Homo sapiens: one gene and its partners. The protein of the gene in region 2 interacts with the protein of the main gene of each other region in a pairwise test. Each region holds a gene or a part of one and is shown on either strand. Other genes may lie near its edges. The genes, in order: VAPA, CYBRD1 and TMEM65.

Evidence for each region.
Region 1: the proteins of CYBRD1 (region 2) and VAPA interact in binary tests that used the Homo sapiens proteins (3 or more experiments, as listed by UniProt).
Region 3: the proteins of CYBRD1 (region 2) and TMEM65 interact in binary tests that used the Homo sapiens proteins (3 or more experiments, as listed by UniProt).

What each region holds. Positions count from the first base shown.
Region 1 is NC_000018.10:9,951,869-9,955,621, forward strand, and holds part of VAPA (vesicle-associated membrane protein-associated protein A), read left to right. Parts: intron 1-2,184; coding exon 2,185-2,343; 3' UTR 2,344-3,753. UniProt on the Homo sapiens protein: Endoplasmic reticulum (ER)-anchored protein that mediates the formation of contact sites between the ER and endosomes via interaction with FFAT motif-containing proteins such as STARD3 or WDR44.
Region 2 is NC_000002.12:171,525,392-171,529,144, forward strand, and holds part of CYBRD1 (plasma membrane ascorbate-dependent reductase CYBRD1), read left to right. Parts: intron 1-3,753. UniProt on the Homo sapiens protein: Plasma membrane reductase that uses cytoplasmic ascorbate as an electron donor to reduce extracellular Fe(3+) into Fe(2+).
Region 3 is NC_000008.11:124,365,991-124,369,743, reverse strand, and holds part of TMEM65 (transmembrane protein 65), read left to right. Parts: intron 1-3,753. UniProt on the Homo sapiens protein: Essential for maintaining proper cardiac intercalated disk (ICD) structure and function as well as cardiac conduction velocity in the heart.

The DNA of each region.
Region 1 (3,753 bases), on a different chromosome or scaffold from region 2:
TGATGTTTCATAGTACCCCCTCGAGGGGTACCCGTCTGCTTCCAAGCACTTGTCTGGGTAGCGGAAAGAATATCTTTATTTCACACCTACACGCCATGGATCTTTTAAAGGATGTTGTTGGTTACTTTTACTTCATCTGCCATGACTTCCATAGTTCTGTTCTTTGATAAAGATGTGCTCCTTAGGGTGCTCAATAGATTTCTTTCAAAAGCCACTGTTTACCTCTGGCAGGGAGGGGAGAAGTGGAAACAGTGAGAATGACATAGATGGGGCAGGGCTGGAAAATAGGAAGAGTGAACCAGGGAAGTAGGTGAGAGAGACTTTATTCCTGGTTTCTACTCTTTTTATGCTAGTGTTCTGTATGAGATTTTATTTGAGAGATGATTCTGCTGCTGGAAAAGTAAAACAAAAAAGCTGGGCTGGGCGGGTGGCTCACACCGGTAATCCCAGCACTTTGGGAGGCTGAGGCGTGTGGATCACCTGAGGTCAGGAGTTCCAGACCAGCCTGGCCAACGTGGTGAAACCCCGTCTCTATTAAAAATACAAAAATTATCCGGGTGTGGTGGTGGGTGCCTGTAATCCCAGCTACTTGGGAGGCTGAGGCAGGAGAATCACTTGAACCCAGGAGGCAGAGGTTGCAGTGAGCGAGATCACGCCATTGTACTCCAGCCTGGGTGACGAGCAAAACATCGTCTCAAAAAAAAAAAAAAAACAAAACCCTTGAAGACCCACTGGCTTACAGAATTTCAGACCCTATACACAGGCCCACCATAATTTTTTGCCAGGTTCACTTTCTTGCTCCTGTCTGTTCACTATCCCTTTTAATTCCCCTAGCCCTGTGGTTCTTAATTCACACTGCATGTGAATCACCTAGTGAGCTTTAAAAAGTTACAGTTGACCAGGCTTGCCCCAGACCTAATGAGTCACAATCACAGGAGTATTAAAAGTTCTGTAGATGTTTGTGATGTGTAGCTGAAACTGAGAATTACTGTTTATATAGGACTAATTAGCATGAGACCAAAAAAACCCAACTCCAGAAAATCCAGTAATGCAAATAAAACTGTGCCATTAGGTGTACTCTTTTAGTTAGTGTTTATTTATAAGCACAATAAAGGAATCATGGGAGAAAATATTGCCTTGTACTGAAAAAAGTAAAAAACTGTCCTGCCATTTATCAGATTGGTTAACAGACAGAGATAAAGACAACTGTGTAGTTAACAGGTATTAGTATTTTTCCCAAGGTTCACATTGCACACAGTGTCATAACAACCTCCTGCTTGGAGTGACTTCTGCTTTCTTCTGAGAAACCTTCTGCTCTAAAGACATAGTGCTGTGTGAAGCCATATCAGCAAGAATGAAGCAGCCTACTCTTGACTGGAGGATCTAAGTCATTTTGACACAGAGAAGCACCCTCATTTTCCAGTCCAGGTGCAGAGCTTCAGATAAGGGTTTCCTATGTACATTTCTCATCTAAATTTGTAGTTTCTGAAGAAACAGTATTCTTTCTCTGCTTTGCAGTCGAGACCTGGTGCTACCACTTTACACACAGCCCTCTGCTTTGCTTTGAGCATATAAAAACACTGTTACTTAAATTTCACGCTAAACTGTTTCCTTCCCCCAAATTCTGTGATACCATATCTCTGTTTACGGCAAGAACACCCTTTTGTGCCTCTGCTGTTCCGGTTCCTTAGTTGCAGTGTGTCAGTAAACCCAAATGGCAGACTACAGGTCTGGGTAGTTTTTGGCTGATTGGGCTAGGACGGATGTAACTGATTTTAAATACCATGGGCCACCTTGGAAGTACTCTTCTTTAATTATATTTTTAGTGGGATTTAAAAAAAGGTAAATATAGCCTATCTAACTTTTGCTTTTTAGGAATACATTTCTCAGCTCCAGTTTTAAAAAATCAGTGTTATTGAGGTATAATTTATATCCCATGGAGACACCCACTGTGAGTGTACAATTCATTGATACATAGAACTTTGTAACCATCACTATAGTTCAGTTTTAGAATGTCTATCACCCCCGGAAAGTTTCCTTATGTGGTTAGCAGTTAATCCCCTTTTCCGTCCCCAGCCATAGGCAACCACTAATCTACTTTCCGTCCCTATAGATTTTTAGCTCCAGTAGTCTCGTTAGTATGCTTGTTTTTAAAAACCTTTTGTGTGTGTGTTTTTTTTCTAGGATGAAGGTTTAAGGCTCAGAAAGGTAGCACATTCGGATAAACCTGGATCAACCTCAACTGCATCCTTCAGAGATAATGTCACCAGTCCTCTTCCTTCACTTCTTGTTGTAATTGCAGCCATTTTCATTGGATTCTTTCTAGGGAAATTCATCTTGTAGAGTGAAGCATGCAGAGTGCTGTTTCTTTTTTTTTTTTTCTCTTGACCAGAAAAAGATTTGTTTACCTACCATTTCATTGGTAGTATGGCCCACGGTGACCATTTTTTTGTGTGTACAGCGTCATATAGGCTTTGCCTTTAATGATCTCTTACGGTTAGAAAACACAATAAAAACAAACTGTTCGGCTACTGGACAGGTTGTATATTACCAGATCATCACTAGCAGATGTCAGTTGCACATTGAGTCCTTTATGAAATTCATAAATAAAGAATTGTTCTTTCTTTGTGGTTTTAATAAGAGTTCAAGAATTGTTCAGAGTCTTGTAAATGTTATTTTAATAATCCCTTTAAATTTTATCTGTTGCTGTTACCTCTTGAAATATGATTTATTTAGATTGCTAATCCCACTCATTCAGGAAATGCCAAGAGGTATTCCTTGGGGAAATGGTGCCTCTTACAGTGTAAATTTTTCCTCCTTTACCTTTGCTAATATCATGGCAGAATTTTTCTTATCCCTTGTGAGGCAGTTGTTGACTGAGTTTTTCATCCTTACAATCCTGTCCCATGGTATTTAACATAAAAAAAAATAAAACTGTTAACAGATTCTTGCTCGATAGCTTGTTTGTGTCTGTCGTGTTATTAGAGGGAACTCCACTATATATGGTCACTTGAAATTATGATGCAAAGGTTTCTCTTGCATTGAAACCCTCTTGGATATTACAGTATTTTTAATTGAAAGTCCTAATTCTGTTAAGGAAAGGAGTTGATTAAATTTTAAGGTACCACTGGTATTTTGGGAGATTATAATCAGTTTGTTTTCAAGATAATAGAAAATAAGGTCCATGAGAATAGAAGTTATGTGATTTCAGTGAGTTGATGTGTACAGCATGGCTGTGCTCCATCTGATTTACCCCATTCTTAAGTTCTGAGAGTATGTTCTCAAGGAAGATTTAACTCTCTTTGGTTTTAAATTACTTTTTAACCAGCCTAATAAATAAGTCTTACTACTTTTCATAATATTTCATAATAGTTAAAAGTAGGTGTTTTTTTCGTGCTCAATTTGGCACTCAAAATAATGTTCATTATGGAAGTTTGGTAATACTGAGCAAGCCTGTGGAATTTTCTTTATGAAAAATGATTTTAGCCTTTGCAAATGTTAACCATGTGAAACACATTTTCAGTATAAGTATGCGTTACAGGGTTTGATACTTTCCTGCACTTAGGTTTGTCCTATTCTTCATTTATTCATACTAGGATAGAAAATTTTGGAATCAGAAAATAGATCCAGTGTTTAGCTACATACAATCTAGTACAAGTGAATTTTTATTCTTAAACATAGGTGTGTTGGCTCTTTTTTTAAAAGATGCGCTCTACCTGAAAAGGAAATTGGATTTTAGAACTGGATGTGGTG
Region 2 (3,753 bases):
ATGTAGGCACATGTATAGTTCTCCCCAGTTCTTCCATATCTTGGCCAACCCATCCACATTCCTCACCCTAAGTATTAGGAAGGCTCCAGTGGAAGGAGGGGGAGTAATAAATAAACTTTATAGGCTGCGAGGGACCCACATGTTACAGACTCGCCATGTTATAACAGACTTTTTTACCGTGTGTGATTGCTGCAAGGAGGAAAATTTTAGGCTATGAGATTTCAAATCTCTAACAAAGAACACGATGTATTGGAGTTCTTCTCTTCTGTAATACACAAATATTTGGAGATGAAGAAGAGAAGGCTAAAGTACAGTTATTACTCTAAGTATAAAATGCTTTAGAAATGCAATATACAAATAGTAAACAATATTTGAAACTAAGAACAAGTATGAGTCCTTTGAAACACCTTTAAGAAGTAGGCTCTGGGCCGGCACAGTCCAGCTACTTGGGAGGCTGAGGCAGGAGAATTGCTTGAACTCGGGAAACGGAGGTTGCGGTGAGTCGAGATCTTGCCATTGCACTTCAGCCTGGGCAACAAGAGCGAAACTCCCGTCTAAAAAAAAAAAAAAAAAAAAAAAAAGAAGTAGGCTCTGGCCGGGCACGGTGGCTTACGCCTATAATCCCAGCACTTTGGGAGGCTGAGGCGAGTGGATCCCCTGAGGTCAGGAGTTCGAGACCAGCCTGGCCAACATGGTGAAACACTGTCTCTACTAAAAATACGAAAATTAGCTGGGCGTGGTGGCAGGCACCTGTAATCCCAGGTACTCAGGAGTCTGAGACAGGAGAATTGCTTGAACCTGGGAGGTGGAGGTTGCAGTGAGCCAAGATTGTGCCACTGCACTGTAGCCTGGGCAACAGAGTGAGATTCTGTCTCGAAAAAAAAAGAGGGATAAACTCCAAAGAAGCAAAGCTAACATAGAAGTTACAAAACAAATCTCCCTCTCCTTCTTTATTCCCCTTTCCCTTTCTCGCTCACCCTCTCTCTCCTTGTCCCATTTTCTCCTCTGTGTCCCTCTCCCTTCCTTTCCCCCTCTCTCTCCCCTCCTTTCCCCCTCTCTCTCCCCACCTCCCATACTCCAAGTATATTTTGGAATATGTATATATTCTAAATTAAAGTATAACAGATCATGGGAAATCTAAAACTAAAATAAAATTTTAAACTAGTGGGAAATCTAGCTAACAGACTCTAACATGAATGAGGAAGGGTTTAGAAGAGGCTTTGTGCTTCTCTGAAAGAAATGTTTCCCATGAAATAAGTATACTACTAGGAAATCAGAGAAACGAACCTTGAAAAGAGGGCCACAGAAAAGACTGAAACAAATAAACGCTGTCAAAGTGGCTGTTGACCTTTTAAAAGGTTCAGCAAGGTGGAATGTGTTCTTTAGTGAAAGGTAGAAAATTCGGGTGTCTACATTTAGCGAAAAGAAGTCTTGGCAATTCTATATTCCTTCCTTTCCTGTGTAGAACTCCTTTTATTGTATAAACTGAAGGGAGAGAAATTAAATAGTCTAATGATCTCAAGTTGATTTCGTGAGATAATATAACTACCTTTAAGTAACATTTAAAAGACTAACAGAAATTAAGAGCAGTTCTTAAAAAACAGTTGGGATATCCTATTAATTTATCTAAAAGTGACCAAATTCCAAGATTACTTAAATAGACTTGAAAAGGCTCTTGGGGTAAAATCCAGCAAGTAAGATAACGGAGAAAGTGTCCCAAATACCTACTCTAAAAGAAGCTTCAGGGACACCATTGATAATAAATCCTATCAATATTAGCGATACAAGGGTTTTTACAAAGCGTAAAGAGATGATTTAAAGCAATTTTGTGACCAAAACCACAAAAAATATCCCCAACATATTTTTTGTTGTAAATAAATACACATAGATTTTTAAATAATGCAACCAATAAAAATGTTTTAGATATGACTGTGGTGCTCAGTGCTATATCCCCAGTACCTAGAATAACACTGAGAACTGGCACATGGTAGACGAGTAAGTGGTTGTTGAATGAATGAGTGATTATTTCTGTACCATCATTGAATTGTTAGTAACAAAATGCAGTTTACAGCCACTTACTTGTGACGATAACAATAGTGTCTAAAGTAAACACACCCTCGCTTTTCCCTAGTGATTCTCCTGTTCAGCCAGTTTAAAAGCACTGGCTTAGTCAACCTCCAGGAAGAATGGACATCATATTGCACTGGAAACGCATCTTTATTCTGAGGCCTCTAGCTGATGAGAATGTTGCTGCTTAAGTACAATCTGTACCTCCTCTTCCCTTCATCCCAGTTCTCCCTCCTTTTTCTGCATCATTAAGTTTCTCCCCCAACTGGCTTATTTCCAACATGTTATAATTTCTATCATCTTCGAAAACAAAACAAAGCAAAACAAAACAAAATCACTCTTGACCCTGTATATCCCTCAGCTACTGCCTCAGTTCTCTGCTTGCCTTACTATGAACTTTTGAAATTTTTGTCCATACCTGCAGTTTCTAGTTCCTTTCTTCCTGTTCTTTCTCGAGCCGGTTCCAATTAGGTTTTCATCTCCTGCTCCACCAAAATTGTGCTTAATATGGTAGCTAATGACTACCATGTCACTAATTCCATTGGTCAATTCTCAGTCCTAATAGTGTTTGAGTGGAAGGCAGCATTTGACATAATTGACCCCTCACTCCTCCTTGGGGCACTTTATTTTATTTTATTTTTTTTGAGATGGAGTTTTGCTCTTGTTGCCCAGGCTGGAGTGCAATGGTGTGATTTGAGCTCACCGCAAACTCTGCCTCCCGGGTTCAAGCGATTCTCCTGCCTCAGCCTCCAGAGTAGCTGGGATTACAGGTATGCACCACGATGCCCAGCTAATTTTGTATTTTTAGTAGAGATGGGGTTTCTCCACGTTGGTCAGGCTGGTCTTGAACTCCCGACCTCAGGTGATCTACCCGCCTCAGCCTCCCAAAGTGCTGGGATTAGAAGTGTGAGCCACCACGTCTGGCCGGGACACTTTCTTTACTTGGCTTCTCTTTCTTCACCTGGTAAGTTGGGTGGCTTCCAGGACACCTGATTCTCATGGCTCTTCTCTCTTTCCTGGCTGCCCCATCCTCAGTCTCCTTTGCTGGTTCTTCCTCATCTTCCTGATGACGGCAGGTTAGAGTGCTCAAGCCTCAGTCTTCTGACCACTTCTTTTTTTCTACACTCACTTCTTTGGTGGTCAATCTTATCCAGTCTCTTCTTCGCTTTAAGTACTATCTATACACTGAACCCTCTCAAATTTGTATATTCAGCCCAGACTCTTCCCTGAACTCCAAATCCAAATATCTGTTTGCCTACTCAAACTCTCTACTTGAATATCAGATAGGCATGTCCAAATCTCAGCTCTTGATCTTCCTCATGCCTGCAAAACCAACTCCTCCCATAGGTTCCACCATCTCAGTAAATGGCAACTTTATCCTTGTAGTCGTTCAGGACGAAATTATGCAGTCATCTGTGATTCTTCTCTTCCATACTTCTCAGCCATTTCACTAGAAAATCTTATAGACTCTGAATTCAAAATACAGTATTATCTAAATTCTGATCACTGACTATTAATTTATTGTCTGTCTTCTCCTACTAGAATATAAACTCCCAGAAGGAAGGGATTTTGTCTGTTTTCTTCAATGCTGTATCCATAGCATTACCCAACACATAATAAACATTCAATGAATATTTACTAAATTGATGGAAGTTTGGCCAGTTCTTTAAACCAGAGGGTCACACC
Region 3 (3,753 bases), on a different chromosome or scaffold from region 2:
TACCTTATTCATTAATCATTAAGGTAAAAGGGATTTTATTATGTTGGGAATGCGTACAGCTCATTCCATTGCTGAAATCAACAATTTTTTTCCAGCCAGATAAATGAAAAACTCCCATGTTTTCTTTTATTGTTGCTTTTTGAATAATGTTTTGAAGTACTCAACCGATGTATTGTGTGTGTGTACTAAGTGTACTTTCTAACAAAATTAATTCTATTTAAAGGGCTATTTCTTGCCATAGGCAATCTTGTGTGTCTTTGGAAAGGGTGCTTGTATAAACTAATGAAGTGTTTTGGATTTGGTATGGAAATGTTACTGAAAAAATATCATCCATGCTTTGATATGGCAGTGGAATCTGCTGTTGAAATTTGGCACATTTGCCCTTATCTTTCTTATATGTTTATCAGTAGGCATGTGATATAATCTGTGATGAGATAAAGCTTTGGAATCAGTTCGTAATAGATAAGGCAGACCTTGTGGGATATCTTATCATAGTTAAATAGAATATTGTGATTTTTAAAATTACAAACCAATTTCTTTCCCAATTTAAAAAAAAGTTGAGTTTGCGCCTTCAATTTACCTGCTCAGCCTGATCTCTCTTCTTCCAGAAACAGACCATATTCTGCTGATAGAGCATTATTCATGTTTTTACAAGTAGTACTGGCAAGCTGACATTATTACAGTGGCCTTTCAATGTTAGCCAAAATTTTTAAAACAAATTTTCTTCCCAATTTTTGTAATTAATATTTCCATTTATAATTATTTTTTAAAGCTTTTAAAATATAGCAATTTGGTATTGAAAAATAGACAGTGCTCATTGTATTAGTTATCCATTGCGGTATAACAAATTATCCTAAAACACAGTGGCTTAAAACAAGCATGTATTAACTCATAATTTCTGAGGCTCAGGAATGCTATAGCATCTTAGTTGAGTATTTCTGGCCCAGGATCTTAAGAAGTTGAAATCAAGCTCTCAGCTGGGGTGGCATCATCTGAAGTCTTAACTGGGGCTGGAGGATCCATTTCCAAGAAGTCTCACTCACATGGCTGTTGGCTGGATGTCTCAATTCCCTCCCATGTGGTCCTCCACAGGGCTGCCTGAGTATTCTCATGACATGGCAGTGGGTTTCCTCTAGAGCAAGTGATGAGAGAGCGAGAGAGCAAGAGAGAGCGAGTGTGTTTGCAAGACAGCACCTGTGGGCACCTAAGCTGGAAGCCACAGACTTTTATAACACAGTCTTAGTAGTGACAGTCCATCTCTTTTGTCCTGACACATTGTGGGAGAGTACTACAGAAGGTGTGAATACAAGGGAGTGGGAATCATCGGGGGTACATCTTTGAGGCTGGCTTCCACACTTATTTAAGGTGGTGTAATTAATGCTCATCAGAGAGTTACACAGAGAGACAAGAACTGGCTATTGGAGAGGTAAAATGAGAGATATGTTTTGAAAAAAGGAGCCTCTTAGGGAATATTTTTGTTATAATATGTATACTATAAGCCACAGACTTTTAAAACGCAGTCTTCGAAGTGACAGTCCATCTCTTTTGTCCTGACACATTGTGGGAGAGTACTACACAAGGTGTGAATACAAGGGAGTGGGAATCATCGGGGGTACATCTTTGAGGTTGGCTTCCACATTATTTAAGGTGGTGTAATTAATGCTCATCAGAGAGTTTACACAGAGAGACAAGAACTGGCTATTGGAGAGGTACAATGAGAGATATGTTTTGAAAAAGGGAGCCTCTTAGGGAATATTTTTGTTATAATATGTATACTTAAGATATTTAAAAAATGAGATTGTTTTTACATATAGCAAATAAAAGATGTATTGAGGTGAACAGAGCAGTTTTTCTATCAATGTTAGGTCTCAATTAGCTTGCATTTTTTGATTACTCTATGTGAGTGGTAATTGTGTGCTTTTGACATTTTTTACCATTTATCTACGTCTGTATACATTAACCAAATAATTCTAAACTTTAATCTTGTAGTCCCCCATTTTTTGTGATTGTTTAAGGTAGGGTGAAGAGCTTTGTTTTGAGAACTTGCCATATAGTATAAGAGGACGTTGACAAAATGAAAGACTGAAAGATAAAGAGCTTATACTAAATTGAGTATCTAAAACACTTAAAAATAAATTAGGCTTTCTTATGGAATCCCTGTTCACTAGAGATCTTGGACCTTTAACAAGATTATCCTTATTTTTTTTCAGCCCATTGCTCAGGATTATGTGAGAAAATAGAAATTCTTTTCTTAAATTTTTTTTATTTTTTGAGACAGAGTCTCACTCTGTTGCCCAGGGTGGAGTGCAGTGGTGCGATCTCAGCTCAGTGCAACTCCATCTCCCAGGTTCAAGCGATTCTCCTGCCTCAGCCTCCTGAGAAGCTGGGATTACAGACATGCACCACTGTGATTGGCTAAGTTTTGTATTTTTAGTAGAGGTGGGGTTTCACCATGTTGGCCAGGTTCATCTCGAACTCCTGACCTCAGGTGATCCACCGAGCTTAGCCTTCCAAAGTGCCGGGATTACAGCTGTGAGCACCGTGCCTAGCCTAAATATAAATTATTTTAAGCTATGAGCCTCTGGAATGGATTGGGAATAGTTTGCTTTTGTCCAATAAGAAAAAGGGCAAGAAAAACATTTTATACTGCAAATAAAGATACGTGAATAAAGATATTTCAGTGCCTTTGTTGAGATAGTAAAAAGGAATAAGGGAAGTATAGCCCCACCTAGGCCCGGCAAGAGGGGAAGAACAAGGACGTGGATAAGAAGTATGAATTGAGGCAAGAGGAGTGAGAGATCTCTGATGAGCCATGGGCTTCTATAAGTTGAGTTACACTCAGTTAAATGAAGCTTTGCTACAATCAGTTATTTTACCAATATGGAAAGAACCTAATTACAGTAGTATATTTCAGCAAGCTTAATTCTGAGTTCTTTAGAGTTACGGGGTATGTTGGAATGGTCTTATTACTAGGGATTACTGCCAGTAGAAGACAGATAATCAAGTAATCAAGTAAAGTTTTTTTTTTTCCATTATGAAAGGCATATATGCTGTTTAACAGTGTTTAATCATCACTTACATATAACATGTCCAGAGTTACGTGTGACTTCAAATAACAACCCTTCTATCATAGCTCATGATTTTGTGGATCAAGAATATAGGCAGTTGCAGGTACAGAGTTCATAGGAAATAAAAAAATAAAATTGAAAAAAAAAGGATATAGGCAGGGCTCAGCTGGATGCTGTTTCTTATGGTATCTATGGAGGTCATTACATAAACTTTGGCTGGCTGATGGTCTGGTCAGAAGGTCCAACATCGGTTTGTTTATGTGTCTGGTACTTTGGTGGATGGCTGGAGGGCTGGCCTCAACTGGAACTGTTGACCCAAGGAGATGGATGTGGCCTCACCAGCATGACAATGTTAGCATGGTTGTAATACTTAGGTCAGGGATCCCAGAGAAAATGTTCCAAGGGGGCTGGGTAGAAGCTGTAAGACTTTGTATTAGTTTTCTTTCTCTTTTTTGAGACGGAGTCTCGTGCTGTCACTCAGTCTGGAGTGCAGTGGTGTGATCTTGGCTCACTGCAACCTCTGCCTCCCGGGTTCAAGCGATTCTCCTGCTTCAGCCTCCCTGAGTAGCTGAGACTACAGGCACACACCACCACACTTGGCTAATTTTTGTATTTTTAGTAGAGGTGGGGTTTTGCCAGGTTGGCCAGGCTGGTCTGGAACTCCTGACCTCAAGCAATCCTCCTG